2 separate regions of the Homo sapiens genome follow, and region 2 is linked to region 1. Evidence: fine-mapped expression QTL. A gene starts in region 1. The other region holds a variant in brackets. All regions are shown on one strand. Distances are from middle to middle. Region 1 holds the start of GIGYF1 (GRB10 interacting GYF protein 1). Region 2 holds the start of GNB2 (G protein subunit beta 2).

Evidence for each region.
Region 2: its variant is fine-mapped to the expression of GIGYF1 in whole blood (TOPMed, PIP 0.93).

Annotation. Positions count from the first base shown.
Region 1 is chr7:100,685,549-100,701,571 of GRCh38, forward strand. GIGYF1 (GRB10 interacting GYF protein 1) reads right to left here and starts at 8,702. Exons shown (of 27, transcript NM_001375765.1): 1 at 8,562-8,702; 2 at 3,044-4,007; 3 at 2,903-2,967; 4 at 2,656-2,759; 5 at 2,433-2,562; 6 at 2,240-2,335; 7 at 1,957-2,068; 8 at 1,750-1,858; 9 at 1,458-1,498; 10 at 1,101-1,271; 11 at 632-885; 12 at 426-531. The coding sequence starts at 2,690. RefSeq lists silencers at 6,199-6,368, 8,131-8,250, 8,421-8,520, 8,961-9,120, a cis regulatory region at 7,776-9,269 and an enhancer at 9,808-10,611.
Region 2 is chr7:100,661,405-100,677,427 of GRCh38, forward strand. It overlaps GNB2 (G protein subunit beta 2), which reads left to right and starts at 12,336. Exons shown (of 10, transcript NM_005273.4): 1 at 12,336-12,519; 2 at 14,773-14,918; 3 at 15,131-15,169; 4 at 15,289-15,395; 5 at 15,948-16,011. The coding sequence starts at 14,862. It overlaps LOC105375429 (a long non-coding RNA gene), which reads left to right. Exons shown (of 3, transcript NR_133946.1): 3 at 4,698-5,022. RefSeq lists silencers at 11,866-11,995, 12,006-12,085, 12,336-12,515, 14,106-14,345, 14,356-14,935 and enhancers at 12,946-13,155, 13,356-13,435. The variant GCTT/G (reference allele first, on the strand shown) is at 11,905.

The DNA of each region.
Region 1 (16,023 bases):
CTTGAGTGTGGCTGGAACCGCGGGTCACACTCCCTTAGGCCGAGTCCACCACTTCACTTGGGTCAACTCAACTAATGGCAGAGGGAATGCGGTGCCCTGACCCTCGCCTCCACGCTGCCAGACGCGGCAGGAACATATCACAACATCGCACAACACCACACAACACCGCAGACGTCACTCCAGGTTCTACAGCTTCTTCAAGGGACTTTCAAAGGTCATTTTGATTACGCCTGATTTCTATCTGGTACACTGCCTTGAAGACATGGCTCTGCTACCCCCTGGTTCCTCCCCACCTCTCAGCACTCTTCTTCCAGATCTAAGTAGCCTGATTCTACAGGTAGGTGGGCAGCCAATGCCCAGCCCGGCAAAGAACACCAGTGCCTGCCCGGCCCAGCCCCAGGCCCGCTGGGCACCCCGCGGCTCACCTGCCTCAGGCCCTTCCTCCTCTAGCCCTTCGGAAGGTTCCTCCTCCTCCTCCAACCCTTGGAAGTCCAGCTCCTGCTCCTCAGGAATGGGCTCCTTGGGGCCCTTCTGCATGGGGCCGGGGTGGGGAGCAGAGAACAGCTGGGGTGGGTGGGGAGGAAGAGGACCCCGGAAGGGCAGGTTCCCACCCTCGCCTCCTCACAGATACCTTGAGAGGCAAGAAGGCCCCAGAGGCATCAAAGGTGCCCATTTCTTCATCCTCATCGTCCAGGCACCACTCTGGGAGCCCATCCTTGTCCTCCTCAAAGCCTTCAGGCGCTCGGCACCGCCGCAGGTGAGAGCTGCCTCCCCCTCCCCGCCCCTCCTCTTCACCACACCCTCCTCGATCCCCTCGCAAATCAAATTCAAACTTGCGCCGCCGTTCCCCATGTTCCCGCCAGCCAGCAGAGCGGGGACCACCATCTGCACAGGAAAAGTCAGGGAGAAGAAGAGTGGGTACCCAAGCGAAGCCAGCGGCCCCCTCTGCTGCAGCTCACGGAGCACCTCCAGGGCTGCTGTCCCGGCCACTCCCACACCAGCCAGCCTCTGCTCCCTCCCCGTGGCTACAGGAGCCCACCCTCTCATTACAGTTCCTGCTCCCCACTGCCCCCGCCAATGCTACCAGGCCCCAATCTCACCAGGGCTGGCGGAGCGCCAGCGGTCGCCGTCTCGCCGGGGCCCTGCTCCGAGCCTCCAGCTGCCCTCCTCCTCCTCCTCCTGTTCCTCCCGTAGGGAGCGCCAGTTCTCGCTGTCTGAGCGGGCGTGCTCCTTCCTTGGGCCAGCCCCTCCCTCCTCAAAGCCACATCGTGCTGGGAGACGGGAAGACAGGGGCAGTTATTAGAAAGGCAGCGTGGTGCCTGGACCCTCAAGAAACGTTGGGGGGGCCAGCTCCAGGCCCTCCTGCCCCCAACACCTCCGAAATAAGCACCCCCAGACTGGGCCACCCATCTTGGTCCTCCCTGCCGCCCCGGCCGCCGCCCTCAGCAGCCTCGTACCTCCATCCCGCCTTGCTGACTTCTCAAACCGCCTCTCGCCTCTGCAGCAGGGGAAACGTGTGGGTCAGAAACAGTACAGCCTCCCCTGCCACCCTGTGCAACCGCCCCATGCCTTGTCCACTGTGCCCTGAGGCAGTGGAGGGAGGAAGGGGACAAACGAAACCAGGGGTCAGGAGCACCGGGATCTCGGACAGGGCTTATCTGGTGGGCCTCTGTTACCCTCTAGCGACAGGGCCCAGGCCTCCCCTCCCTGGCCTGCCCGGCTCTGCGCCATGCCCCCTCCCCGCCCCACCTGTCATCCCAGCTCTGGCTGCGCTGGATTTCCCGGGGGCTTCGTCCAAAGGCCCCATCGCCTTCTTCGATGCTTCTTTGGTAAAAGCAGCTGTCACCACGGCCGCGGCCTAGAGAAGAGGCCAGACGCACAATGAAACCTGCTGCACGTTCTCGAAGTCAGGGGCCCAGATCTGCCCGTCCCCAGGACACGCCATCACCCCTCTACCTCGGCTCCGCGTGCTGCCCCTGCCTCGGGAGGTGCCAGCCAGGGGGGGGCCAGCCCCTTTCCCCATCAGCCTCAGCACAGCCACGCTGTTCACTGACAGGGAGAAGTTTCTCTGAGGAGGGAGCCAGGGGCGGGAGTGAGGACCCAGGCACCCAACCACCTCCACCCCCACCCCACAGCACCCTCCCCGCCTGTCTCCTCAGCGCTGGCCCCTCTCCTCCTAACCCAACCCATGGCCTCCCCTCCCAGGCTCCCGCAGCCTCAGCTCCTGGCCCGGTCCCACCTGTTCCTCCTCAGTCAGCGGCTCCAGAGCCAGGGGCTGCAGTGGCTCGTCCTGCAGCACCGCGGCGAACTCCTTGTCCTGCAGCTCTTCCGGGACCTGGCAGTGGGTTGGGACAGCCAAGACACCACATGCTGCCAGATCCCCTCCACAGGCAGAGGCCACCACCGCCAACCCCCCTCGCCCACGCACCCACCTTGTTCTCCTTGACGTAGAGAGCCAGCATTTCCTCTCGCCCATAACGGTAGTCAGCCAGCTTGTATTTGGGCATGGCAGGGGACGGGGGTGGGGAGGCCACGCTGCCGCCCCCGGACAGGGCCCTGAGCCTGGACACAACACAGAGAGAAGAAGACAGAGGTCAGGGCAGCCTGACTGTGCTTTCTCGAATCTCCACGGCAGCCGAGGCACAAGTGACTCACCACTCAGGCCCAAAGTTGAGTGTCTCTGCTGCCATCGTGGGGCTGGGCGTGTTTGAGAGGCCGGGGGTGGGGAGGAGGGGACCTGGCGTTCACTGTCCAAACACCTGTGGGGGAACAGGGGCCATGAAGAACAGCACACGAAGGAGAACTTTAAAGCGCAGGGAGGACACCATGGGGGACATCCTAGTGGGCACAACAATGGGCCCCGGACTAGCTGGTGGGTCACCTGGGGTCTAAAAGGACTCACCTGAGCCAGCCACGTGGCCACTCACACCATGAGTTACCCAGAGATGAGTCCAGACGGTGAAAGACCTGGGGGAGGCGAGGAGATGGGAAGCTCGAGTCCTTTCGGCCTCAGCAGGGCAACCACCCTTGGCCCGGGGCTCACCTGGCAGCCTGGCCCGGGAAGAAGGAGGGCAGGGGCTGGTGCTGGAGTGAACGAGGGTACCCAAGCCACTGGGAATTGGTCTGACCTCAGTAGAGCCTGGGAGGGACCTTCACATCTGGGAAAGACCCTTAAGGAGAGCAGGGGGGAGGAGGGAGGGTTCAGGACATGGCTCTGCCGGCAGCCCTGCCCTGCCCCGCATGACAGGAGAGGTCCATTCGCCGGATGGTGTCTCTGGGCATCAGCACCCTCGCCACCCTCTCTGGGAGGCTGAGACAGGAGGTGTAGTGAAGAACTCGGGGAGGGAGGCAGCCGAGGCCAGGATGGACGTTCAGGGCAAAGATAAAACAAAAACAAGCAAGCAAACAAAAACCCACTAGAGCCACAAATAGCTTACAGAGAAAAGGTCAGTTACGGAGAAAAGGATTAGAAATAAATCTAGGAGCAAAATTCTTTCCCTCATGAAAAAAATCAGTTGGCTGCTCAGAAGCTCAAATCCAGGGGCTTGGTCTGGGGAGAAACCCAGTGAAAAGGAGCAGGAGGTGACTCTAGGGCCACAGACGGGTACACGACAAGGACTCCAGGCAGGCAAGCCTGAGCCAAGGCACCTCGGGCTGGTTTCCCCCACAGGAATCACACCCAGACCACCGCCCCCAATCAATAATGGAGGCTTAAACAACCAAGCCACCAAGGGAACGAGGATCTCAGGATACCAGCTGGGAAGCAGCCTCTGGCACCATCAGGTGGAAATAAGGTCAGGGCAATGGAGGCTGATGGGGGCGCGGCGGCAGCCTGTTCCTCTAAGGGAGGATGGAGGGGACTTTCAGGAGGAGGCGCATCCCTGGGGCCCCAGGCAGAGGACTCAAGCGGGTGGGCGGGGTCCAGGTGCTGCGGTGTTGTCACTGGCTGGGAGGGAGGCTGGCCCGGCTTGGTGCTGCAGCTCCCATCAACTCCAGGACGCCACAGTCTGGGAAAGAAGAGGAAGCGGGTTCAACCAGGGTGCTGAGGAGGAAAGGCCATCAGCCCCAGCTGAGCCAGCAGCCCATGACAAGCCGAGGCCTGCTCAGAGTCCAGGCACTCCAGGGGGAAACACCGGGCTCAGAGGCAACCCAAGGCCAGGCTGGCCTCCCCTGGGACCTCTCCTTCCTCTGCCTCGGCTGGATGCTCCAGTGGTGGTGTGTTCCATGACATGAAAAGCCACCAGCCTGTCACTGACTGCAGGTGGCCACCTAGAGCAATCTGGGGACTGGATGAGCCTTGAGGACATCACGCTAAGAGAAACACACCAGCCAAAAAAGGAGAGCTACCCCTTACTTCTCTTTCATGAGGTCTCTAGAGCAGTCACTCATTGAGGGAGGAAGGTAGAAGGGCAGCCACCAGGGGCTGAGGGGACAGGGAGCTGTTGCTGAAGGGTCCAGAGCCTCAACTGAGGAGGGGATCCTGGGGCCGCTGGTGGTCATGGCCGCACACCAATGTGAGTGTACTTAGTAACACAGAATGGCACAATTAGAGACAGTTAAAGTCTCCAAATTTTGTTGTATATTTTACCACAATAATCATTTTTTTAAAAAAGCTTTAGGGAACAAAAGGTATCTGGAGATAACCACCGCATACCTAAGTTTTCCCCACTCCAAGAAAAACACCCCACATTCCTTCAAATCAGCCTCAGGAGAGGCCATTTTGGGCCTCCTCCAGTTCATTCCTTCTAGAAGGCCAGAAGCTCATCCTGGAGGCATGAGGGTGGGAGAGAGTAGAACAGAAAAGGGACCACCTGGCCAGCACAATGGCTTATGCCTATAATCCCAGCACTGTGGGAGGCTTGAAGAGAGGAGTCCGAGACCAGCCTGAGTAACAGAACAAGACCACGACTCTACAGAAACAATTCTAAACATTTTTTAAAAAAGAAAAAGTGGCCAGGCGTGGTGGTTCATGCCTGTAATCCCAGCACTTTGGGAGGCCAAGGCAGCCAGATCACCTGAGGTCAGGAGTTTGAGACCAGCCTGGCCAACGTGGCAAAACCCTGTCTCTACTAAAAATACAAAAATTAGCCAGTCCTGGTGGTAGGTGCCTCTAATCCCAGCTACTCGGGAGGCTGAGGCAGGAGAATCGCTTGAACCCAGGAGGCGGAGGTTGCAGTGAGCTGAGATTGCGCCCCTGCACTCCAGCCTGGGCAACAGAGCAAGACTCTGTCTCAAAAAAAAAAAAAAAAAAAAATTTAAAGCGATGGCCTCACACTGCCCCCTGCCAGGCGCAGCAAGGGCAGCTCTCCTAGGTGCCTCCGGCTCAAGTCACCCATCCTGGCTGTGTCTTGGCTGCAAGGGGCACACAAAGGGGGAATGGTTCATGCAGACTGAGGACAGCGACACCAAGACAGGGGAGAGAGCAGGCCCAGAGCAGGAAAAAGCCCATGCCACCCGCCTTCTTGGGAAGAAACCAGGAGAGTGAGGTTAACTCTCTAGGCACCCCCACAGCAGGGTCTGGTGCCGGAAGCTGATGGTGCCTGGCCCCTTCCTTGGACTAAAGGAACTAGTGGCACACCTGCAGGCCACCATGGGGCTCCCACCCTCCAACAGGTTCTGGACTGGGGGCACCTCTGCTCCTCAGGGGGCTCTTGGCCAAGTCTAGAGACATTCTGGGTTGTCACCACTGGGCAGGGGGTGCACAGGGCAGCCCCACAGCCAAGAGCTATGTGACTCCAGATACCAAGTGCGCCAGTGCTGAGACACCCTCCTCTGCGCCACGAGCATGGGCACAGCCCTTGGGGGTCTACTGGGCCAAGGGGAAGGCAAGGGAAGGCAGGTGTGTGCACGCTGGGTCATTCTCCTCTCTGAACAGCAGGGACATCATTCCCTAATTACACTGTCCCACGAGGGAAATCTGAAATCCTGCCAGGAGAAAATCTTTGAGAAAAGAATAGATTTTTTTTTTTTAAGAAAAACTGCCTAAGTTTGTCTATTGCAAGCTCTCAGGGCCAGGTATCTGATCCCTGTCCAATGAAGGTAAGAGCAGGAGGTGGCGGGGGCTGGGGTACTGCCACCTGCCCGTCTCAGCTTACCCGGCTGAGCTTTCTCAGCTCAGGGTCTCCTTCTCACAGGCCCCTTCCAGCCTGTCCCCCGCCCTGGCCCTGCCCTCAAGCCTCGGCCTACTTCGGCTCCTCGCCCCTTCCCCACCCCTTCTCTTTCTCGGGCCTGTCTACCCTCACTCCCCCAGCATCTGAATCAATGCTTTTGAAAGACTGCCCCCTGCCGGAGACAAGGGGCGAGGACACGCTGGGCCCGGGTGCTCCAGTAGGCGCCAGGGCGCGCGGGAAAGGGAGCCTGCTCTCTGGGGCTCAGAACTCAAGAGAGAAAGAAAAGACAGAGAACAGGCGGTCCCAGTGCACATTCAGCTAAGAACATTATCTCCTCACTCCATCACCCCTAAAATTAGCTCCAACACAGAGCACTGTGCCTTGGCACAGAACAGAGCCACTTAAACAGAAGCACAGTCCCCAATTCCTCAACACTGGAACAACCGCCCAGCCCCAGGCCTGCTGGAGGGGACCTGGCCCTTTCTCAGGATGGAGATTCTCCAAGCGTGGTAGGGTGAGGACGCTGAGGCTTAAAAAAGAGATGCAAACCCGCATTCTTCGCGGCTGGTCGGTTATCCCAGCTCTCTCCTCTCTGAGCCATCCCAGCAAATCACACCACCGCTTGGCAATTGTCTACAAGTTAACAGTTTTCAAAGGATTTTCACTCTTTACCTCCTGTGATCCCTTTTGCCCACTTGCCCAGCCTTGGGCTCCAGCCAGGGAAAAGAAGGAGGAAGCTGCTCCGACAGCGTGCCCCGACATCCTTGACACTATGCAAGACTGGAGGTGCGCACGGTAGCAGTAACCATCCCAAACTCGCAAGCATTATTCTGTGAGTTTGAAGCCATTTTACATTTGTTAGACTTTCAACATCCTTCATCTAGCCTCCTCCTCTCATCTTCTCTCCTCTAAAGTGGGCTATTTTTCTTTAATTCCCAAATTCCAATAGCAGATGTAAAAGTTAGGGCTAACGCATCAGATCACGAACACAAGACTGATGTGTCCAACAGCAGAAAAAGCTAGTCCAGAAGTTTAAGCACATGGTCCACTTGACTAACCACCACGTGGGACCCTCAGGGCCCCTGGTCCCCAGGCAATGGCAGGGACACCAAGGCCAGGTCTACCCTCAAATCCTTCCCAATGGCACGACAGACCGCTGGGGGACCAAGACCTACAATCTAAGAAAATCAGATTGGAGCTGGCTAGCCTGGTGGAGGGTGGCTAGCCTAGGTCTGCAAAGGGCACAGGAAAGATGGGAAGGAGAAAGAACCCCAAATCCCCCATGTCGGCAGCAAAGGAGAGACCCTTACTGGTACCACCGATGGTGTTTCCATGCCAAAGGCGAGGGGTTGGCGGGGTTCTAAATTGAAACTTCTATATAGACTCGAAGAGGCAGTGCACAAGAGGGTGGGAAAGCTGACGATCTTCCAGAACGACACTTTGAGAGGCAGGAGGGAAGTAAGGCTTGGGTGGCTGGAAAAAAAAAATCCAATCCAGCTAACAAGTCTTTATGTAGCATCTCCTAGTTCCTAGCACTAGGATGCAACAGACCTGGAGTCTGACCGGGAATGCGAGTAATGACTGTATAACAGAGAAGAGAGACGAGGGGCTTTTAAAAAGTTACTCGGAAATTTTTTTGTTTTTTTTTTTTTTTAAGGCAAAGTGTGAGAGCTGTGGCCAGGGAGCTGCTGCACGGAGGGGCATGAGCTGAGAAGGGCCTGGCCTGGGACGGGGAGGACAAGCAGTCTCTGCTAAGGAAGGTATTTCCCGCGGCCGAGCAACTGGGAAGAAGGAGACCCCAATGACCCAGCACTAAGATCGCCGGAGCGAAAGGAAACAGAGGTGAGGAGGACCCAGGCGAGGTGCCTGGGTGGAGGGCAAGGCTTCCATGTTGGCCAAAGTCGTGGAACGCTTGGACCTGGGGAACCGCAAGGCCCAGCTCGTTCCGAGGGGAACCCAAAGGCGCGCTGGGGAGAACTCCGGGAAGCGCGGGGCCCGGCCACCCTAGGACGCTAGGGTCGGGGGCCCCCAGGCGGCCCAGGGCAGGGCTTGGCAGGGGCCCGGGGGCGACCGTTAGGAGCGCGGGGGTGGAAGGCAGCGCGCCGGCCCGGGAGGACGGCGTGCCCTTCAGGGAGGGGCGCCAGGTGCGAGGGGGGCGAGCGGTCGCCCCCTAAGCCGGGCGCCGGCCTCCCGGGGCCTCCCCGAGGCTGGCCGGCTCTGGGGGAGGGTCCCGGCGGCGGGGATGGGCCGGAGCGGGCGGGAGAGCGGGAGGACGCACCGGGCTGCGGCGGCCTCGGGGAGGAGACGGGGGAGGGTCCTCGCTGGCGGCCCGCGCGCTGGCTCCGGCGCTTCTCTAGCTCGCGGGCTCGGCGCGGCCGCCGCGGCGTCGGGGGCGGGCCTGCCCCGGGGCTGGGCTGCGGGCCGGGGGCCGCGGGGCCACTGGGCGCTTACCGCGGGCGGCGCGAGGGTCCGGTCCCGGGGCGTGGGCGGCGCGCGGCGGGCGGGGGCCGGGGACGGCGACGGCGGCTAGCAGCGGGGGAGGGGGCGCTGGCGCTCCCGCGGCGGCCGCTCCTCTGTGTTTGTGTTTGTAGCAAGATGGCTGCCCGCCTCGCACCACGTGACGCGGACGCGGGGCCGCGGGGCCGCCCCTTCCACCGCCGCCGCCGCCGCCGCCGCCGCCGCCGCCGCCGCCGCCGCCGCCGCCGCCGCCGCCGCCGCCGCCGCCTCCCTCCGCGGCTCCGGCCCGCGCCACCTCTCCTCGTGCGCTGCTCGCGTGCCGCGCGCGCCACTGCCCGGACGCCCGTCGCCCCCGACAGCCCCCCCCCTCCCCGCCCCGACACGTGACCTGGGCGCCCGGCTGGTCACGTGACGGGGGCCCCCAGCTGCGGGCGGGATCGGCCCCAGAGCGGCCTCCTCTCCCCCACCTCCCCCGGCCCCGCGACGCGCGACCTCTGGGACCGAGGCCGCGGCCTCCCTGGCGGTCCGGTTTCCTCCAGGAAGCCCGCCTGGATGACAGGAGACAATAAAATCCAGAACCCTTCATCAGGCGTCCTGGGATGTGTGAAATAAGTGGCTCAGGCAAATAAGTTGACTCTCAGGAGCCTCTTTATTTTTTTAATTATTTATTTAATTATTGAGACAGAGTGTTGCTCTGTCCCCCAGGTTGCAGTCCAGTGGCGCGATCTCGGCTCACTGCAGCCTCCGCCTCCCGGATTCAAGTGATTCTCATGCCTTGGCCTCCCGAGTAGCTGAGATTACAAGCACACACCACCACGTTTGGCTTATTTTTGTTGGCCAGGCTGGTCTAGAACTCCTGACCACTCAAGTGATCCGCCTGTCTCGCCCTCCCAAAGTGCTGGGATTACAGGCGTGAGCCACCGCGCCCGGCCCCTATTTATTTATTTTTTTGAAGCAGGGTCTCACTCTGTTGCCCCAGCTGCAGTGTACTAGCCCGATCTCGGCTTACGGCAGCCTCCAACTCCCGTGTCTCAAGCGATCCTCCCATCTCAGCCTCCTGAATTGTTGGGACTATAGGTGTGCACCATCACACCCAGATAACTTTTTTATTCTCTGTAAAGACTGGGCGGGTGGCGTGTCTCATAACATTGCCCAGGCTGGTCTTGAACTCCTGGTCTCAAGGGATCCTCCTGCCACAGCCTCTTGAGTAGCTGGGACTACAGCTGTGTGCCACCACACCCAACTAATTTTTTTAATTTATTGTATTTGTTGTTTGTTTGTTTTCCAAGACAGAGTCTTGCTCTGTCGCCCAGGCTGGAGTGCAGTGGCGCGATCACGGTTAACTGCATCCTGCGCCTCCTGGGCTCAAGCAATCCTCCTGCCTCAAGCACCCTGAGTAGCTAGGACTACCAGGGCACACCACCACGCCCAGCTTTTTTTTTTTTTTTTTTTTTTTTTTTGTAGAGACAGGGTTTCCCCCATGTTGCCCAGGCTGGTCTTGAACTCCTGGACCCAAATGATCCTCCTTCCAAAGTGCCGGGAACTCCTGGACCCAAATGGATCCTCCTTCCAAGGTGCCGGGATGACAGGCATGAGCCGCCACGCCTGGCCTCTCAAAAGCCTCCGTTTCTCTTACAGAAGGATGTTAACACTGCTCTGCACCCAACCCCCGACCCCCAACTCCACACTCTTCCTTGAGTGCTGTAAGAATTAAAATAAGTGAATGTGAAAGGCTTTGACAAGAGAGAAACTGCTATGCAAATGTGAGGTGACTGAAACCCCCTTTGTTTAAAAAAAGGACTTTTCAAGAATGACTCGCTGAACTTTTTCAAGGCTCAAAAGTTCCGCGTATGCTTTCACCTTTTTCTTTGGAAGTTACTCCAGAATGTATACCTTACTTCCCAGAAGCCTAAAAGAGCTGTCGCCCAACACAATGTAATCCTCAAAACAAGGAAAAGGTAAGTTCATGACTTGGAATTTGAGTGCCTGGTGTCTTGCCATGATAGAGTGTTGACTTCAGGAACTATTATACCTGGAACAACTTTTGTTTCCCCCACCAAGTACCACTAGGCTTCTCTGCACTTGGAGTTTTCCTGTCTGTTTTCCTTTTTTAACTATTTTATTTATTTAAGAGACAGGGTCTTGCTCTGCTGCCCAGCCTGGAGTGCAGTGGCACAATCAGCTCACTGCAGCATCGACCTCCTAGGCTTAAGTGATCCTCCCTCCTCAGCCTCCCGAGTAGCTGGGATTGCAGGGAGTGGCACACCACCATACCCGGGTATTATTTATTATTTATTTTTTTTTTGAGAAAGAGTCTCACCCTGTTGCCCAGGCTGGAGTGCAGTGGCGTGATCTCAGCTCACTGCAACCTCCGACCCCAGGTTCAAGCAGTTCTCGTGCCTCAGCCTCCCAAGTAGCTGGGATTACAGGTGTGTGCTACCATGCCTGGCTAATTTTTGTATTTTTAGTAGAGACAGGGTTTCACCATGTTGGCCAGGCTGGTCTCGAACTCCTGAACTCAGGTGATCTACCTGCCTCAGCCTCCAAAAGTGCTGGGATTACAGGCACGAGCTACTGTGCCTGGCCCAGCTATTATTTTTTACTTTTAAATTTTTGTACAGACTGAAGTATCACTATGTTGCCTGGGCTGTTCTCGAACTCCTGGGCTCAAGCAGTCCTTCCATATTGGCCTCCCAAAGTGTTGGGATTACAGGCATGAGCCACTGTGCCTGTCCTGCTGTCTGTTTTTATATTTTATTTAATATTTTAATTTTTTTCGAGACGGAGTTTCGCTCTGTCGCCCAGGCTGGAGTACAGTGGCGTGATCTCAGCTCACTGCAACCTCCACCTCCTGGGTTCAAGTGATCCTCCCACCTTAGTCTCCTGAGTAGCTGAGACTACAGACAGGCGCCACCATGCCCAGCTAATTTTTGTATTTTTGGTAGAGATGGAGTTTCACCGTTTTGGCCAGGCTGGTCTCAAATTCCTGGCCTCAAGTGATCCTCCCGCCTTGGCCTCCCAAAGTGTTGGGATTACAGGCGTGAGCCACCGTGCCCTGCCAGCTAGCTTCCTTTCTCAAAGAGGGAGTTTATAGGCTTTAATTTCTGCTGACTTCAGCATCAGTGTTCACACTTTACAGTTGGTGGGGATTACTTGTCCAAAGTCACACATTGGTGTCCAGGAGATCCAGGGAGACCCCTCTGGTCTTCCACCGTGATTGTATTAGTCAGTTCTCATGCTGCTAATAAACCTTGTCCTTCCTTGAGCCCAGAAGCCTGGGCAACAAAATGAGTTCTTGACTCAAAAAGAGAGAAAAGTGAAAAAATATAATAAAAAACAAAAAAGAACTGTGAGTCTCCCATGAAGAATTTAAAAATTACAAAGAAATCACTTGGACCTAATTGGCCGGGCATGGTGGCTCACACCTGTAATCCCAGCACTTTGGGAGGCTGAGGCAGGTGGATCACCTGAGGTTGGGAGTTCAAGACCAGCCTGACCAACATGGAGAAACCCCGTCTCTACTAAAAATACAAAATTAGCCAGGCGTGGTGGCACGTACCTGTAATCTCAGCTACTAGGGAGGCTGAGGCAGGAGAATCGCTTGAACCTAGGAGGCGGAGGTTGCGGTGAGCAGAGATCACGCCATTGGACTCCAGCCTGGGCAACAAGAGCGAAACTCCATCTCAAAATAAAGAAATCATTTGGAGCTAATGTGTTTTTGTTTGTTCAGGTGCTGCTCTGTAAAATGTCTTGGTCTGTGTTCTAAATTTGCAAACTTTTTAACTAAACAAAGAGATTTGTTTGGAAGGTTAATGGAGATGAAAGAGTGGTCTCACGCAGACCAAACAGCCAGCCTCTGCCTTTCTTTTCTTTTTCTTTTCTTTTTTTTTTTTTTTTTTTTGAGACAGAGTCTTGCTGTGTTGCTCAGGCTGGAGTGCAGTGGTGCAACCTCCGCTCCTCCGGGTTCAAGCGTCTTGTATTTTTAGTAGAGATGGGTTTTGCCATGTTGGTCAGGCTGATCTCAAACTCCTGACCTCAGGTGATCTGCCTGCCTCAGCCTTCCAAAGTGCTGAGATTACAGGCGTGAACCACCGTTCCTGGCCCTTTTTCTTTCTTTCTTTTCTTTGAAACGGAGTCTCCCTCTGATGCCCAGGCTGTAGTGCAGTGGCACGATCTTGGCTCACTGCAAGCTCCGCCTCCCGGGTTCATGCCATTCTTCTGCCTCAGCCTCCCGAGTAGCTGGGACTACAGGCACCCACCACCACGCCTGGCCAATTTTTTGTATTTCTAGTAGAGACGGGGTTTCACCGTGTTAGCCAGGATGGTCTCGATCCCCTGACCTCGTGATCCACCTGCCTTGGCCTCTTAAAGTGCTGGAATTACAGGCATGAGCCACCACGCCCGCCCCGCCCCCACTTTTTTTTTTTTAATGGCAGATTCCTCTTCAGTGTTTTCCTTTGATGAAATGTAAGGAGAGGGCTGGATGCGGTGGCTCACGCCTGTAATCCCAGCACTTTGGGAGACCGAGGCAGGTGGATCATGAGCTCAGGAGTTCAAGACCAGCCTGGCCAACATGGTGAAACCCCCGTCTCTACTAAAAATACAAAAATTAGCCTGCGTGGTGGCAGGCGCCTGTAATCCCAGCTACTCGGGAGGCTGAGGCAGGAGAATCACTTGAACCTTGGAGGTGGAGGTTGCAGTGAGCTGAGATTGGGCCACTGCACTCCAGCCTGAGAGACAGGGCGAGACCCCGTCTCAAAAAAAAAAGAAATGCATGCAAGGAGATAAGGACTGTCTTGTTGTCAGATCAGTTTATTGTCAAATCGGTTTATTACAGAGCTTGTCTTCATCCACCTAAATTGCGAGCCTTGATATTTATGTGGATATCAGAGTTTGCAAAACATATTTTAGGTACCATGGAAAGACACATGACCTGAGTAATGGAGTGATAGCTCATAAACTGTGCTTATTGTTAATTATCAGACATAATGGGCGTTAAAATTAATTTACTGCATTCAGAATTACTTTTGGCCCTGCGCTAAGTTCTTTGCTCAACCAAACGTAACTGCGTTGTAAGTCACCAATGACTTCCACATTGTGAAATCTACTGGTCCATTATCTTACATGACCTGTTACCAGCCAGTGACATAGACGGTCACTCCCTCCAGAAATACCATCTTCACCTGGCTTTCTGGATGCTATATTCTGTTGGTTTTCCTCCCACCTCACTAGCTGCTATTTCTCAGATTTTACTGGTTCCTCCTCTTCTCCCCATCCTCCCAGGGCTCAGACCTCCGTATTGGAACAGGATATGGGTCGGGCACAGTGGCTCACATCTGTAATCCCAGCACTTTGGGAAAGGCTGAGGCGGGAGGATCGCTTGAGCCCAGGAGTTCAAGAGCAGCCTGCACAACATGACAAAACCCCATCTCTACAAAAAATACAAAAATTATCCGGGCGTGGCAGTGCACACATGTAGTCCCAGCTACTCAGGAGGCTGAGGTGGGAGGATTGCTTAAGCCAGGGAGGCGGAGGTTGCAGTAAGTGGAGATCAAGCCACTGCACTCCAGCCTGGGTGGCAGAGCCAGACCCTGTCTCAAAAAAAAGGGAACAGGATATAGGACCTACTGCTAAACATTCCTGTCTCTGCCTAATCATTACTTCCTCTTGGAAAACCTTGGATCCCTCAAGATGATATTGGCTGTCTCTCCTTGGGGATCCACCCAATCCTATTCATGTCCCCTCAGCACAGGTCATGCGATCATGCTCACCTTGTCTTGCACACTACAATATGAGCAGTTCAGCACAGTATTATGTAATATAACTGGTATGTTCGCAGCCTAACAGGTCACCTTGATCCATCCCTTATAGCTGTGTAATATTCCATGGGATGGATGTGCCATAGATTGTTTACCATGCACTGATCAAAAGTTATCCGGAGGTCGGTGGCTCATACCTGCAATCCCAGCGCTTTGGGAGGGTGAGGCAGGAGGATTGCTTAAGTACAGGAGGTCAAGACCAGCCTGGGCAACATAGGGAGACCCCCATCTCTACATAATAAATTAATATGAAAAGAAAGCCATCTGGGTTGCTTCCCGTTGGGCTATTACAAATAAAAATGCTATGGACGGGCTGGGCACGGTGGCTCACGCCTGTAATTCTAGCACTTTGGGAGGCTGAGGCAGGTGGATCACAGGTCAGAAGTTCAAGACCAGCCTGGCCAAGATAGTGAAACCCCGTCTCTACTAAAAATACAAAAAAATGTAGCTGAGCGTGGTGGCATGCATGTGTAATCCCAGCTACTCGGGAGGCTGAGGCAGGAGAATTGCTTAAATCTGGGAGGCAGCAGTTGCAGTGAGCTGAGATTGCACCAGTGCACTCCAGCCTGAGTGACAGATTAAGACTCCATCTCAAAAAAAAAAAAAGAAAAAAAAAATGCTATGGATGTTCATGTACAGATTTTTAAATGCCAAGAAATGTTCTTGCTGGGTCATTTGGTAAGTGTACGTTTAATTTTAGAAGGAACTGCCAAACTGTTTTCTAGGATGGCTGTACGATTTTCCACTTCCACAAGCAGTGTATGTATGAGAGATCCAGTTTCCCTGCATTCTCATCCACACTTGGTATTGTTCGTATTTTGTATTTCAGCCATTTCAATACGTGTTATTGGTAGCTCGTCATGGTTTTCATGTGTATTTCCTTAATGGCTAGTGATATTGAACATCTTATGATGTGCTTATTTACCATTCTTATACTCTCTTTCACTGAAATGTCCGTTTAAGATTTGCCCATTTTCTTTTTCTTTTCTTTTTTTTTTTTTTTTGAGACAGTCTTGCTCTGTCGCCCAGGCTGGAGTACAATAGTGTGATCCTGGCTCACTGCAACCTCTGCCTTCCAAGTTTAAGCGATTTTCAAGTCTCAGCTTCCCGAGTAGATGGGATTAACAGGCGCCCGCCACCACGCCCAGCTAATTTTTGTATTTTTAGTGGAGACGGGGTTTCACCGTGTTGGCCAGGCTGGTCTCAAACTCCCAACTTCAGGTGATCCACCCACCTCAGCTTCCCAAAGTGCTGGGATTACAGGCAAGAGCCACCGCTTGCTTGCTTGCTTGCTTCCTTCCTTCCCTCCCTCCTTCCTTCCTTTTTTCTGTTTTTTCTTTCTCTCTTTCTCTCCTCTCTTCCTTCCTTCCTTCCCTTTTTCTTCCTTTCCTTCCTCTCTCTTTCTTTCTCAGACCCTCACTTTGTCACCCAGGCTGGAGTGCAGTGGTATGATCACAGTTCATTGCAGTGCTGTCCTCCTGGGCTCAAGCAATCCTCCTACCCCAGCCTCCTGAGTAGCTAGGACTGTAGGCACAGACCACCAGGCCTGGCTAATTTTTAAATTTTTTGTAGAGACAGGATCTCACCATGTTGCCCAGGCTGGATTTGCCCATTTTCTAATTGGGTTGTTCGGTTTC
Region 2 (16,023 bases), 24 kb before region 1:
AGCATGGACAGAGGTCTAAGGACATGAAAACTTCTGGAATATGTGGAAATAGGAGTTCAGTCTAGAAGGAGGGTTGGATGTGAGCCGCTGACAGAGGTCAGTGTCAGGAGGAGATGAGATGAAGTAATTAATGACCAGCTGGATGAGGTCGAGGCTGCAGTGAGCTATGATCACACCATTGCAGCCTGGGTGACAGAGTGAGACACTGTCTCTTAAAAATAAAATAAAATAAAATAAAATAAAAATAAAACCAATGGGTTCATGCCTACAACCGTTTTTATTTGTTTATTTTTGTTTCTTTCTTTCCTTTTTTTTTTGAGATGGAGTCTTGCTCTGTCACCCAGGCTGGAGTGCAGTAGCGCCATCTTGGCTCACTGCAGCCTTTACTTCCCGGGTTCAAGCAATTGTCTGCCTCAGCCTCCCGAGTAGCTGGGATTACAGGCGCCCGCCACCACGCCTGGTTAGTTTTTGTATTTTTAGTGGAGATGGGGTTTTACCATCTTGACCAGGCTGGTCTTCAACTCATGACCTCATGATCCAACTGCCTCAGCCTCCCAAAGTGCTGGGATTACAGGTGTGAGCCACCGCGCCCGGCCTTTTTTTTGTTTTTGGTAGAAACAGGGTCTTGCTATGTTTCCCAAGCTGGCTGTTTTTTTTTTTTTCCTTTGAGAAGGAGTCTCGCTCTGTCGCCCAGGCTGGAGTGAAGTGGCGCAATATCAGCTTACTGCAACCTCCGCCTTTTGGATTCAAGCGATTCTCCTGCCTCAGCCTCCTGAGTAGCTGGGATTACAGGCATGCACCACCACGCCCAGCTAATTTTTTTTTTATTTTTAGTAGAGACAGGGTTTCACCATGTTGGCCAGGCTGGTCTTGAACTCCTGACCTCAAGTGATTCACCCACCTTGGCTTCCCAAAGTGCTTGGATTACAGGCGTGAGCCACCACACCCAGCCCTTGTTTTCTTTCTTGAGACAGGATTTCGTTCTGTCACTCAGGCTGGAGTGCAGTGGCGTGATCACAGCTCATTGCAGCCTCAGTCTCCCGGAGTCAAGCAATCCTTTTGCTTCAGTCTCCCGAGCAGCTGGGACCACAGGCACACACCACTACACCCAACTGGTTTTTTTTTTTTCTTGAGACAGAGTCTTGCTCTGAAGCCCAGACTGGAGTGCAATGGCATGATCTTGGCTCACTGCCACCACTGCCTCCCAGGTTCACGTGACTCTTCTGTCTCACTCCCAAGTGGCTGGGACTACAGGCACGCACCACCACGCCTGGCAAATTTTTGGATTTTTAGTAGACACAGGGTTTTGCCATGTTGCCCAGGCGGGTCTCGAACTCCTGACCTCAGGTGATCCGCCTGCCTTGGCCTCCCAAAGTGCTGGGATTATAGGTGTGAGCCACCGTGCCTGGCCTGATTTTTGTATTTTTTGCAGAGATGAGGTTTTGCCATGCTGCCCAGGCTGGTCTCAAACTCCTGACCTCAAGCAATCCACCTGCCTCAGCCTCGAAAGGTGCTGGGATTACAGGCCTGAGCCACTGTACCCAGCCTTCACCCAGCCTTCTGTCAGATAAACCAAGTGCCTTGGCTTCACAGGGAGCCCCGGTCCCAGGATGGATGGCAAGTGCCCAGAAATACACAGTCCAGTAAAGGCTTCAACAGGAATGGAGCCAGCATTGCAGTGGGGCACAAACAACATTTAAAACAATATTTAAACTAAGTCCCAGGAAATGGCCTGGGTTTTTCTGGCAGACAAGGAAGTGGAGCTGGAGGAGGGGTGAAAGGCATTTCTGAGTTGAGGGGACAAGACCTGGCCTTTGTGTCATGCAAAGAAGTTGACTCTTCTCCTGGAAACCCCTGGGAACTACTGCAAGATTTTGAACAGGAGGGTTATTGACCCAACTGGCATTTTAGAAAGATACCTCTGGCAGCCATTTGGTAGATTGATTAGAAAGGGACTAAGTTAGAGGCCAGGAAATGGGCAGGAATCAAGGTAATAGCAATTGGCACACCGTAGAAGGGATGGATTTAAGCAGTATTCAAGAGATAGCATTGGGCTGGGCACAGTGGCTCATGCCTGTAATCCCAACACTTTGGGAGGCTGAGGCAGGAGGATCACTTGAGGCCAGTGTTGGAGACCACTCTAGGCAACATATCGAGACCCCATCTCTATAGAAAAAAAAATTTTTTTTTAATTAGCCTGTCGTGGTGGTGCGTGCTTGTAGTTCTAGCTACTCAGGAGGCTGAGGCAAGAGGATCACTTGAGCCCAGGAGGTTGAGGCTGTCAAAAAAAAAAAAAAAAAGAGAGAGCGATAACATTGACATGATGGATCCACTAGGCATAGACTGCTACTCTTATACCATTTCCCATTGCCCTTCTTTGTTTATTATTGTTATCATCAATTATTTTTATTTTTTGAGACAGGGTCTCACTCTGTCACCCAGGCTGGAATGCAGGGGTGTGATCATAGCTCACTGCAGCCTCAATCCCCTGGGCTCAAGGGACCCTCCCACCTCAGCCTCCTGAGTTGCTGGGACTACAGGCATGAGCCACCACATCTGGTTAATTAATTTATTTATTTTTATCTTTAGCAAACATGAAGTCTCACTATGTTGCCCAGGCTGGTTTCGAATTCCTGAGCTCAAGCAATCTTTCTCCTTCGGCCCCCAAAGTGCTGAGATTACAGGTGTGAGTCACCATGCTCAGCCTATTTTATTATTTTTTATTTTTTATAGAGACAGGGTCTCACTACGTTGCCCAGGCTGGTCTCGAACCCCTGGGCTCAAGTAATCCCCCTGCCTCGGCCTCCTAAATTGCCTTCTTTGTTTATTAATAATGTTTTAGCTGTGTACATGGATAGAGACTACATGTCCCAGCTTTCCTTGCATCTGACTAACTTTTTATTTTAATTAATTAATTGATTGATTGATTAATTAATTAATTAATTTTGAGACGGAGTCTCACTCTGTTGCCCAGGCTGGAGTGCAGTGGTGCAATCTCAGCTCACTGCAAGCTCCACCTCCCGGGTTCACACCATTCTCCTGCCTCAGCCTCCTGAGTAGCTGGGATTACAGGTGTGTGCCACCACACCTGGTTAATTTTTTTTTTTTTATTTTTAGTAGAGACAGGGTTTCACCATGTTGGTCGGGCTGGTGTCGAACTCCTGACCTCGTGATCCGCCCGCCTCGGCCTCCCAAAGTGCTGGGATTACAGGTGTGAGCCACCGTGCCCGGACTTTAATTCATTTTTTATTAGAAATTTAAATAATAGAGATGGGGGTCTTGCTATGTTAACCAGGCTGGTCTTGAACTCCTGACCTCAAGCAAACCTTCTTCTGGCCTCCCAAAGTACTGGGATTACAGGCATGAGCCACTGTGTCCAGCTGCATCTGGACAACTTCTGAGCAGGTTAGTGGTGTCCTTAATCAGGAAAGGACCTGTGCTTCCTGCTTTAACCCCCTTCCCACATTCAGATATGATGGTGATTTCTGCCTAGGCCCCATGGAACAGAGAGATAGAAGCCACATGTTTAAGATGGCAGAGACCAGCTGGGTGCCGTGGCTCATGCCTGTAATCCCAGCACTTTGGGAGCCCGAGGTGGGCAGACTTGAGGTCAGGAGTTCGAGACCAGTCTGGCCAACATGGTGAAATGCCGTCTCTGCTAAAAATACAAAACTTAGCCGGGTGTGGTGGCACACACCTGTAATCCCAGCTACTCAGGGGCTGAGACAGGAGAATCACTTGAACCCAGGAGGCGGAGGTTGCAGTGAGGTGAGATCGCACCACTGCACTCCAGCCTGGATGACAGAGCGAGACTCCCTCTCAAAAAAAACAAAAACAAAAAGAAAACAAAAGGAAAAAAAAGATGGCAGAGATGTCCCCACAGTCCTGGAGTATCTATTTTGAGGTTAAGTCACTGAATTTTGGGGAATTCTTTGTTATAGCCGCTTCGCCTATACCCTAACTGACCATCCTTTGGATATGGGGAGGGAAGGCATGGGAAATATCTGAGTGGGTGCTGGTGCTGTCAACTGGGCCAGGATATTCAGGGAAGGGGTAAGGTTGGGCAGGGTTGGGCTCAGGGGAAGATGATTAACTTAGTTTTGAATATGTTGAATGTGAAATGTCTGTGAACAGTGGTGTGTAGTAAATGGTTTTTTGTTTGTTTGTTTTGAGACAGGGTGTTGCTCTGTCACTCAGGCTGGAGTGCAGTGGTGCGATCATAGCTTACTGCAGCCTCCAACTTCTGGGCTCAAGCAGTCCTCTCACCTCAGCCTCCTGAGTTGCTGGGACTACAGGCATGCCACCAAACCTGGATAATTTTTAATCTTTTTTTTGAAGATGGGGTCTCGCTGTGTTGCCCAGGCTAGTCTCAAACTCCTGGTGGTGAGCCACCATTCCTAACAACCAGCTCTTCAAAAAGGGGGAGCCCTGATCGGAAGCATTTGCCAATGTCCATGACGTAAACAGTCACACCTTGGCTGAGTTCAAGTTCCTACTATCTTATTTTATTTTATTTTATTTTTTTTGAGATGGAGTTTCGCTCTTGTCACTCAGGCTAGAGTGCAATGGCGCTATCTCGGCTTACTGCAACCTCCACCTCTTGGGGTCAAGCGGTTCTCCTGCCTTAGCCTCTTGAGTAGCTGGGATTACAGACACCCGCCACCACGCCCAGCTAATTTTTTTGTATTTTTTAGTAGAGACGGAGTTTCACCATGTTGACCTCAGGTGATCCACCTACCTGGGCCTCCTAAACTGCCGGGATTACAGGCGTGAGCCACCGCGCCCAGCTCTTCAAGTTTCTGCTACCAAGATGCCTTCACTGAATAAGGAGCTGGGTGTACAATGGGCACTCGTGACCTGGCATGAGCGGATGCCAGCATGCCACTGTCCACGGGCATCTAAGTGGGGATATTCAGTCAGCCATTGGATGTACACCAAGTCGGCACACGGGGAAGAGACATCTGGGCTGGAGACAGTAATGGATGAAGTCACCAATGAATAACATGGAGAGTGAGCAGAGGAGGCCAAAGTCAGTATTCTGGGAAAAACAATGTTTGCAGAGTGCCCTGAGGAGGAGGAGATGCTAAGAAGCCAGAAGAGGTAGAGGAAGGAGGCCCTGTGACCCATCAGAGCCACATCCGCCACTTGCTCTCGAGGGTCCTGCCTGCTCAGATAAGTTGGCTACTCATTGGTCATCACCTGGCAACTCTGTCCTTCCTTGCATCTGGCCAACTTCTTTTTCCTCTCTCTTTCCTCCTGCCCTCCTCATTACCATCTAAATTAGCTCCAGTAGCTCTCATCAAAACTCAAATAACGGCCAGGCGCGGCGGCTCATGCCTCTAATCCAAGCACTTTGGGAGGCTGAGGCGACTGGATCACCTGAGGTCCGGAGTTTGAGACCAGCCTGGCCAACATGGTGAAACCCTGTCTCTACTAAAAATATCAAAATGAGTTGGGCGTGGTGGCACATGCCTGTAATCCCAGCTACTTGGGAGGCTGAGGCAGGAGAATTGCTTGAACCTGGGAAGTGAAAGTTGCAGTGAACCGAGATCGCAGCACCACTGCACTCCAGCCTGAGTGACAGAGCAAGACTCTGTTTCAAAAGGAAAAAAAAAAAAATATATATATATATATATGTAATTTTTCTGTAGAGACAGGGTTTCTACAATTTTTTTTGTAGAGATGAGATCTTGCTGTGTTGTGCAAGCTGGCCTCAAGCGATCCTCTTGCCTCAGCCTCCCAAAATGCTAGGATGACAGGCACGAGCCACCACGCCCAGCCTAAAAAATATACATATCTTTTTTTTTTTTTTTAGATGGAGTTTCGCTCTTGTCGCCCAGGCTGGAGTGCAGTGGTGCAATCTCGACTCCCTGTAATCTGAGTTCCAGCAATTCTCCCGCCTCCCTCCTGAGTAGCTGGGATTACAGGCACACGCCACCATGCCTGGCTAATTTTTTGTATTTTTAGTAGAGATGAGGTTTCACCATGTTGCCCAGGCTGGTCTCGAACTCCTGACCTCAAGCGATCCTCCTGCCTCAGCCTCCCAAAAACGTTGGGATGACAGGCATGAGCCACCGCGCCCGGCCTAAAAAACCCCGACTATCTTGATTCCACTTCCTCTTCTCACTGCTGCACCAGCTTTGTACATGGTCCCCGGCCAAGCTGAGATACCCAAAGTCTGGTCCACGTTGTTTTTCTCCACTGCATCATTTCTCACTCACCCATTGCAAATGCCGTAGGCAGAGCTACAGTGGCTTCTACCCAATCCACTGCACACTTCTCAGGGCAGGCTTGCTTCATGTCTCTGCAGCCTTCAGCACAGTTTCCCATTCCTTTTTTGGAACACTCTTTTCTTTTGGGTTCCAGAAGTCCGCATCCTCCTGATTTTCTTCTTAGTTCGCCGGCTTCTCCTTTGGCAACTTGTTCTCCACCTGACCTCTAAATGTCGGAGTTCCTCAGAGCTTGGTCTTAGGCCATCTTGTCTTTTCCCTGCACCTCTTTATGACGTCATCTGCTAGAATGTGCCACTCACTCTTGGGGCTCTATTCCAACCCAGATTTCTCTGCTGAATTCCAGGACTGTGTCTACAGCCACCTATTAAACATTTCTCCTGGATTTCTCAAAGAACTAAAAATAGAACTACAGTTTGACCCAGCAATCTCATTACTGGGTATTTACCCAAAAGAAAAAAAATCCTTCTACCAGAAAGAAATATGCACTCGTATGTTCCTTGCAGCACTATTCACAAGAGCAAAGACATGAACTCAGCTTAGGTGCCCATCAATGGTGGACTGGATAAAGAAAATGGTACATGTATGTTATGGAATACTATGCAGCCATAAAAAGAAACAAAATGAAGAAACAAAGAAACATGTTTTTTGCAGCAACATGGATGCAGCTGGAGTCCATTCTCTTAAGTGAATTTAGAGCAGGAACAGAAAACCAAATACCATATGTTCTCACTTGTAAACAGGAGCTAAACATTGGGTACTCATGGACATAAAGACGGCATCAATAGACACTGGGGACCACTAGGGGGAAGAAGGAAGAAGATGGGGCAAGGGTTGAAAACTATTAATACCTAATGGGGCCAGGCATGGTGGCTCACGCCTGTAATCCCAGCACTTTGGGAGGCCAAGGCAGGTAGATCACTTGAGGCCAGGAGTTCAAGACCAGCCTGGCTATCATGGCGAAACCCCATCTCTACTTAAAATACAAAAATTAGCCAGGTGTGGTGGTGCACACCTGTAATCCTAGCTACTTGGGAGGCTGAGGCAGACGAACCACTTGAACCCAGGAGGCGGAGGTTGCAGTGAGCTGAGATCGTGCCATTGCACTCCAGCCTGGGCAACAGAGCAAGACCCTGTCTCAAAGAAAAAAAGAAAAAGAAAAACTACCTATTGGGTACCGTGCTCATTACATGGGTGATGGGATCAATCGTATTCCAAACCTCAGTGTCACACAATTTACCCATATAACAAACCTGCACACGTACCCCGTGAATCTAAAATAAAAGTTAAAAAAAACAAAAAAAGAGGCCGGGCACAGTGGCTCACGCCTGTAATCCCAGCACTTTGGGAGGCTGAGGCAGGTGGATCACGAGGTAAGGAGATCGAGACCATCCTTGCTAACACGGTGAAACCCCGTCTCTACTAAAAATACAAAAAATTAGCCGGGCCTGGTGGCACGTATCTGTAGTCGCAGCTACTCAGGAGGCTGAGGCAGGAAAATCACTTGAACCCAGGAGGCAGAGGTTGCAGTGGGCCGAGATTGCGCCACTGCACTACAGCCTGGGCGACAGAGCGAGATCCGGCTGAGTGCGGTGGCTCACACCGGTAATCCCAGCACTTTGGGAGGCTGAGGCTGGCGGATCGCTTGAGGCCAGGAGTTCGAGACCAGCCTGGGCAACATGACAAAACCCTGTCTCTACAAAAAAAAATACAAAAAATTAGCCAGGCATGGTGGTGTGCACCAGTAGTTCCATCTACTGGGGAGGCTGAGGTGAGAGGATCATCTCAGCCCAGGAGGTCGAGGCTGCAGCAAGCTGTGATTGCGCCACTGCACTCCAGTCTTGGTGACAGAGTGAGACCCTGTCTCAAAAAAAACAAAACCAAAAACACCAAAAAAAATTTTCTCCATAGGCACTTCAAACCTAAAACTTCCCAATCTTAAACTCTTGATCTTCCTCCCAGAATATGTTCCATCTCAAATGTTCTGCTCGAAGTAAACAATACCTCCAGGCCAAGCACTGTTATTTTTTCATTTTTGTTTGTTTGTTTTGTTTTGTTTTGTTTTGAGACAGGGCCTGGCTCTGTCACCCAGGCTGGAGTGCGGTGGCAGAAATTCAGCTCACCACAACCTTTGCCTCAGGAGTTCAAGTCATCTTCCCACCTCAGCCTTCCGAGTAGCTGGGACTACAGGCGCACGCCACCATGTATTTCTTTCTTTCTCTCTCTTTTTTTTTTAACGACGTAGTCTTGCTATGTTGCCCAGGCTGGTCTTGAACTCCTGGACTCAAGTGATCCGCCCACCTCTGCCTCCCAAAATGCTGGGATTACAGGTGTGAGCCACCACGCCTGACCCTAATCCATATTTCAATGCCCATCTGCCTCCTCTATAGATTGCAAGCTCCATGAGGAGGGTGCACCTGTCATTCAAGGTTGCATCCTCATTGCCTAGGGCAGTGCCTGATACATCATCCGGTTCAGTAAATATCAACGGAATGAGTTAAAACAGGAAAGCTTATTAGCACAGAAACCAAAGCAGCACACATGCCCTCTTGAGATTGACAAAATTGTGCTGTAGTCCTGCGCTGCTTGTTGTTAAGTGACTTTAGGGAAGTCATCGTGGCCATCTACAGATTGAGGAAATCAACGTAATTATCTCTGAGGTCCCTCCCAAATTCTCATGTGTAGTTGACATCTGTTATCTATTGCTTATATGTCACTGAATTGGCAGGTATGCATAAATAGAATTTGCATCTAACTACGAATACGATTGTTTATATTTTCTTTAAAAAAATATTGGGCTTTTGTTTCTCATATTGAGAGCTCTGTTATGCCATTTTCGAATTTCTCCCAGATGTCCCCCCCGGCCCACCTTCAAACTCTGCTTCCTTAGACAGATTTGGCAATAGCTTTGTAAGTGATATGGACATAATTGCCTAAAATAATGAAAACCTACAGGATTCTTTTTTCATTTTCCCTTTGGCATGTTTACAATTCCCTGCCCCACCAGGCAGATCATTCTGTGTGTGTGAGTGTGTGTACCCATTACAAAGACAACTACTATGTTCATAACATATTCGATTTGGAAAAAACAATTGTAGGCTGGGCACGGTGGCTGACATCTGTAATCCCAGCACTTTGGGAGGCCGAGGCGGGCAGATCACGAGGTCAGGAGTTCAAGACCAACCTGGCCAACATGAAACCCCATCTCTGCTAAAAATGCAAAAATTAGCCAGGCCTGGTGGCATGCTCCTATAATCCCAGCTACTCGGGAGGCTGAGACAGGAGAATCGCTTGAACCCAAGAGGCAGAGGTTGCAGTAAGCCGAGATTGTGCCATTGCACTCCAGCTCTGGGTGACAGAGCAAGACTCCATTTCAGAAAAAAAAAAAAAAGAAAAAAGAAAAAACAATTGTTTTTGAAAAGTGATTTGTAATGTCTTTCACAGAGACTAAATGAAGAGTATGTTTTGATACTTTTTAAAATATAATTTCATCTTTTTAGATTCTGACTCATGTGCACATGAATGTACCCATGTACATGGGTATATCTTGTGATGCTGAAGTTTGGGGTACAATTGATCCCGTCACCTGGGGTACAGTACCCAATAGGTAGTTTTTCAACCCTTCCCCCCTCTAGTAATCCCCCGTGTCTATTGTTCCCATCTTTATGTTCATGAGTACCCAGTGTTTAGCTCCTACTTATAAGTGAGAACATGCAGTGTTTGGTTTTCTGTTCCTGCAGAAATTTATCCACTTAGGATAAAAGCCTCTAGCTGCATCCATGTTACTGCAAAGGACACGATTTCTTCTTCTTTTCTTTTCTTTTGTTTCTTCTTTCTTTCTTTCCCTTCCTTCCTTCTCTCTTTTCTTTCTCTTTCTCTCTCTCTCTCTTTTCTGCATCCATGTTGCTGCAAAGGACATGATTTCTTCTTTTTTCTCTCTTCCTTTCTCTTTCCTTTCTTTTTTTCTTTCCTTCCCTTCCTTCCCTCCTTTTCTTTCTTTTACTTTTTCTTCTTTTGTCTTTCTTTCTTCTTCTTGAGTCAAAGTCTTGCTCTGTTGCCCAGGCCGGAGTGCAGTGAGTGGTGTGATTTTGGCTCACTGCAACCTCCGCCTCCCGGGTTCAAGCAATTCTCCTGCCTCAGCCTCCTGAGTAGCTGGGATTACAGGTGTGTGCCACCACGCCCAGCTAATGTTTGTATTTTTAGCAGAGACGGGGTTTCACCATATTGGCCAGGCTTGTCTCAAACTCCTGACCTCAAGTGATCCACCCGCCTCGGCCTCTCACAGTGCTAGGATTACAGGCGTGAGCCCCATCTCGTTCTTTCTTATGGCTGCGTGTTTTGATACTTTCAAATTACAAGGACTCAGTGAAGGCTATTCGTTGCCTTGAACTTCCCAAAGCATTTCCACAATCGATGGGGTTCTCAGTAAGAATCCGGGACTTGGAGGGCAGATGCTGTCAACATCCCCATTTAACAGATGTGGAAACTGAGGCCTAGACCTACGTTCTTGTCCCTTTACAGGCAAGGTCCCTGGAGGAAGGGGTTCATCTAGAGGCTCATACAGATAAACTGGAATGTACAGTAAAGTTTTGGCTGCCTGGGTTCATATCTAAACTCTGCAGCCTCAGGTCTCTTTCCACTATTAGAAAATGGGGAGAAGGCTGGGCGCGGTGGCTCACGCCTGTAATCCCAGCACTTTGGGAGGCCGAGACGGGCACATCACCTGAGGTCAGGAGTTTGAGACCAGCCTGGCCGACATGGTGAAACCTCGTCTCTACTAAAAATACAAAAAAAAATTAGCTGGGCATGGTGGCGGGCGCCTGTAATCCCACCTACTCCAGAGGCTGAGGCAGGAGAATCGCCTGAACCCAGGAGGCGGAGGTTGCAGTGAGCCGAGATCATGCCACTGCACTTCAGCCTGGGCGACAGAGTGAGACCCTGTCTCCAAAAAAAAAAAAAAGAAAAGAAAAGAAAATGGGGAGAATGTTAGCACTTAATTTCCCAGTATTGTGAGACTTAACATATGTCAGCCTGGGCAGCATAGCAAGACCCCACCTCTACCAAAAATTTAAAAATTAGCTGGGCATGGTGGCTGGGGCACGCCTGTGGTCCCAGGTACTAGGGAGGCTGAGGCAGGAAGATCACTTGAGCCGAGGAGATTGAGGTGGCAGTGACCTACAATCGCGTCACTGTACTCCAATTAAAAAATAAGTGTCGGGCCAGGCGCGGTGGCTCACGCCTGTAATCCCAGCACTTTGGGAGGCCGAGACAGGCAGATCACGAGGTCAGGAGATGGAGACCATCCTGGCTAACACCGTGAAACCCCGTCTCTACTAAAAATACAAAAAATTAGCCGGGTGTGGTGGCACACGCCTGTAGTCCCAGCTACTCAGGAGGCTGAGGCAGGAGAATCGCTTGCACCCGGGCGGCGGAGGTTGCAGTGAGTTGAGATAGCACTCCAGCCTGGGCGACAGAGAGAGACTCCGTCTCAAAAAAAAAAAGTGTGGCTCTCAATAAATGAGTTGTTATTTCAGTGGCAAGCCCTGAAAGGGGGTCTACAAAGGCCCAGTGGGCGAGGCTGAGGAAATGCCTGGACACGACCCTTCTCATGGCATTCCCGGGGCGCCCGCATCAGCCCCTACCCACTCCCGCTCGGGGACTTTCTCGGAATCGC[GCTT/G]CTTCTTCCAGCAGCCTCGAGGCCGGCCCCGTCCAGGTCTCTTTAGCTCCGCCCCCTGGTGAGGGGCGTGGCCTCCTCAGGGCCGGGGCGTGGCCCAACCGGGAACTGGGGCGTCGAACTCCCCTTCCCAGTCTGGAGCCACCCATTCCAGGCGGGGCGGGAGGCTGATCACGTGACCAGCGAGCGGTCTCACCCTCCTCATATGCCAGTACCACCTCCTCCAGTCCCAGAGGGGGGATGTCTTACTCCTTTCCGTGAAGCAAACCCTTTGAGTACGGTTTGCGTCCACAAAGCGTAGGGTGAGAACCTTGGGAGCGACTGGGCCCGTCTTTGCTCCCTCGGTGGGGTTTTGTCTCCTGGCTTCCCCCAAGTGCGAGGCAGTTGGTCTCGCCCAGCCGGGTCCTGGGCGCGGCGGCGGCAGCCGCGTCACTGGCGGGCGGGATCCCTCCGCTCTGGGGAGGCAGCGCTGGCGGCGGGGCTGGGGCCACTGAGGAAATCCATCCGCGCCGCCGCCGCCGCCGCCGCCGCCGCCGCCGCCGCCTCCGCCGCGGAGGAAGACAGCGCCGCCCGCGCACCGCCAGCGACCTCCGCCGCAGAGTCCCACCGCCACAGGTACCTTCGCTGGCAAAAGGAGTCCTCTCGCCCCCCAGCCCCAATTTCCCCCAGGGGAACCTCTCTTCCTTCGGTCTCCCGGGGCTGGCCTCCTGGGAGCGGACGTAACTCCCCAGACCTCCGCTCCCTTCCCCTCTTGCCCGGTCGCTCCCAAACCCGGAAGGGGAACTGGGGAACCCTCGCCCCCCACCGTGCGTGCGCTTCCCCGCACCATCAGCGAAGTTTTTGCCCGACCCCAGACCCCAGCCCAGCCCCGACTGCCTCTTGCTCCCTCGGAAGTTGGGGGGCTAAATTCCGGGCTTCCTCTAGGCCCCGCCCCGCCCCCTTTCCCCACCGCCACCCTCCCGCCTGCCCCCGGGGAGCACCCCTCGTGTCCTCCACTGTCGCACCCCTGCCGGCCCTCGCCTTGCACAACTCCAAAATCGGGGAGAAGCAGGCAAGGCCGCGCGCCACCCTTCCTTTCGTCTCCACCCTACCCACGATTTGGGTGCTGCCCGTGGTTTCTGGCCCCACTCGCCGAAACTGGAGCCCTCGGCGCCCTATTCCCTTTACAGATCCTCACCCCAAGCCCAGCTCCCAGGCGCCCGCCCCCCGCCCAGCTTTCTTTTAGGCAAAATGGAGGTCGTAGGGGCTGGAGGGCCAGGCCCACTGCGCTTCGCAGCGCCGCACCAGCCCGCGCCTTCCAGCTGCCAGATCCAGGGACCCTCCCGTCACTCTCCTGAGCCCCGCCAGACCTGCGGAGGCGGTTGCACCCTCATTTCTCTATGGAGCGCCGGCTGCTATATCCCTAGAGTCTGGGGGCTGCTGAGGGCCCTGGGGGGTGATGGGGACCGAGGGCTGAGAACGTCGCCCCCGCCCCCAGTTTCTTCCTCCAGCCGTGCTTCCTTCTGCCCTGGGCCTCCGGCGGTGCCGCCAGGCCTGGGCTGCTAGTAGGTGGAAGAGGCTTTGTGCGGGCCTGGGGGTTGGGTAGAGTAAGGAGTTCTGCCCGCACCCCCCATCCCCCGATTTTGAGGGTCACCCCTTGGCACTGGCGTAGAAAGCTGAACTTACAAGGAGGGGAAATGTCAGTGGGGAAGAGGAACGCCCTGCGCCTGGGGGAAGTGGGAGCTGGGTGGGGGACGCCTGGGCCGGCCAAGTGCAGTGTGTACGGCCGGATCGCACAGGTGTCCCGCGGGCGGGGAAGGACTCAGGCTCCCGGAGCGGAGCCAGCCGGGCCCCTGGGGCCCGGGCGCCGAGCCTGCGGGCTGGGCCCCCCGGGTGTCCAGGGCGCCGCGGCCAGGCCGCCTGGGGCCGCCCGCCCGCGCCTGGGAGAGAGCACCTCCGCGCCTCGGGGCCGGGGACCTCGTTGCGGAGCCGTAATTACTCGAGAGCGGCTCCCACGGGCTTTCTGCGGGCGCGGCGGGGCGGGCGGTCCCTGCGCTGGAGGGAGCAGCGGCTCGGGGCTGCCTTCCCCGCCGCTGTCACCCCCACCCGCGGCGGACGGCTAATGGGGCGCAGCCGGACCGGGGATTATCCGGGGTGAGCCGTCCAGAACCTATTAGCGCCCAATCGGCTTTTCCCAAATCCTGTAAACAGCCACCCGGGCCGGTTCTGGGGAGGGCGGGAGGCTGGGTCGGGCGGGGGCGATGGGGCCGGGGGTGGGGTCACCCACCCTACAGGTCTCTGCCGTGGATGCGGTTGCCTTGGCAACGGGGCTAGGGTGGGGGCATTTCACCAATGAGGTGCTCTCGGTCCGGGTGACGGTTGCCTAGGCAACCCCACGAACAGCCCAGCTTTCCCCTCTGGTCTCTCCCCCCACCCGCCACCATCGAAGCTGGGGGTGTGTGTGGAGGGTGTGCGCCTTGTGGGGTGAATTTCAAGAGGCACCGCCCCTTTTAAAATTAGGTGCTTGGAGGGCGGTGCCTGTGCGGGCTGGGGCAGAAGCCAGGTCTGTTTTCGAAGGGACACCCCCGCCCCCCCCGCCCCAGTTCCTGCCGCGGGTGTCCTGCCCGGGCTGTGTCCGAGGGAGGGGTTTCCCCTGCGCTTCCTCTTGCACTTCCCGCTCCGTTTCCGGGGGGCGGGAGGAAGATTGGGGAAGTCGGCTCTTACTCGGCGACGTCTCTGGTGCCGGAGACCCTGGTTGTGCCCGGGGACGGCGGCCGCGCCGCCCCTTCCCCCTCCCCTTGCTTACCCCTTCCGGGCCGCGCTGCAACCCCGCCTTTCTCCCCACTTCCCCGGCGGCCTCGGGCCTGACGTCAGCCCTGCATCCCCCAGGCCTCGGGCCAGCGGCCAGGAGCTGCCTCCCCCAGCCCCCGTCCCGCGGCCCCCAGCCGCCCCCAACCCTGCCCCACGGGCCCGGCGCCATGAGTGAGCTGGAGCAACTGAGACAGGAGGCCGAGCAGCTCCGGAACCAGATCCGGGTGAGGGCCTGGTGCGGGGCGGGCGATTCATGTGTACACCGCCCGGTGCCCTGGACCGGGTTGGGTGAGGGTGTTGGTGGGGGAAGGGGGAGGGAGGGCCCCTTAATGGCTCAGAATCTGACCCTGTCCACTCCTGTCTTCTGTTCTCTTCTCTCCCTTTCCTCCCCAACCTGTCTTCTCTCGCGTCTCTCTGGCTCTGCCATCCCTTACAGGATGCCCGAAAAGCATGTGGGGACTCAACACTGACCCAGGTGAGGGCACTTGGTGGCCAGAGCGTAACTAGGGGTTGAAGGGGCAAGGATCAGAGGCCGCTGCCCTCTGCAGTCCTGCTGCCTGGGCCTCCCCGAGCGCATTCTGTCTCTACCTCCAGATCACAGCTGGGCTGGACCCAGTGGGGAGAATCCAGATGAGGACCCGGAGGACCCTCCGTGGGCACCTGGCAAAGATCTATGCCATGCACTGGGGGACCGACTCAAGGTGTGTGTGTGTGCGCGGGCTGGCGCTGTGGGCCGACTTTCTAGCAGGCCGTGGGAGCAGCCTCAGATCTGGCGGAGTAAGCAGGCCACCAAAATACCCAGCGTACGTCTGGAAAAACGGTGACTCCCAGACATGTCCGCCAGACCTGGACAGGCAGGACCATGCTGGTGAGAACTTGTGGGCTGCAGCTGGAGACTGTCTCTCAGGTGGCTCACGCCTGTAATCCCAGCACGTGGGGAGGCCAGGGCAGGATCACTTGAGCTCAGGAGTTTGAGACCAGCCTGGGCAACATAGTGAGACCCTGGCTCTACTAAAAATTGAAAAATGAGCTGGGTGTGGTGGTGCTCACCTTGTAGTCCCAGCTATGCGGGGGAGGCTGAGGTGGGAGGATCACTTGAGCCTAGGAGTTCCAGGCTGCAGTGAGCTGTGATGGTGCCACTGCACTCCAGCCTGCACAACAGAGAGAGACCCTACCTTCTCCCACCCAAAGGGAAGGGGGTGTGTCTTGTTTTCACGCCACCCTTCTGCTCTCCCTACACCGTTCCCCACCAGGCTGCTGGTCAGCGCCTCCCAGGATGGGAAGCTCATCATCTGGGACAGCTACACCACCAACAAGGTAGGGTGGCGC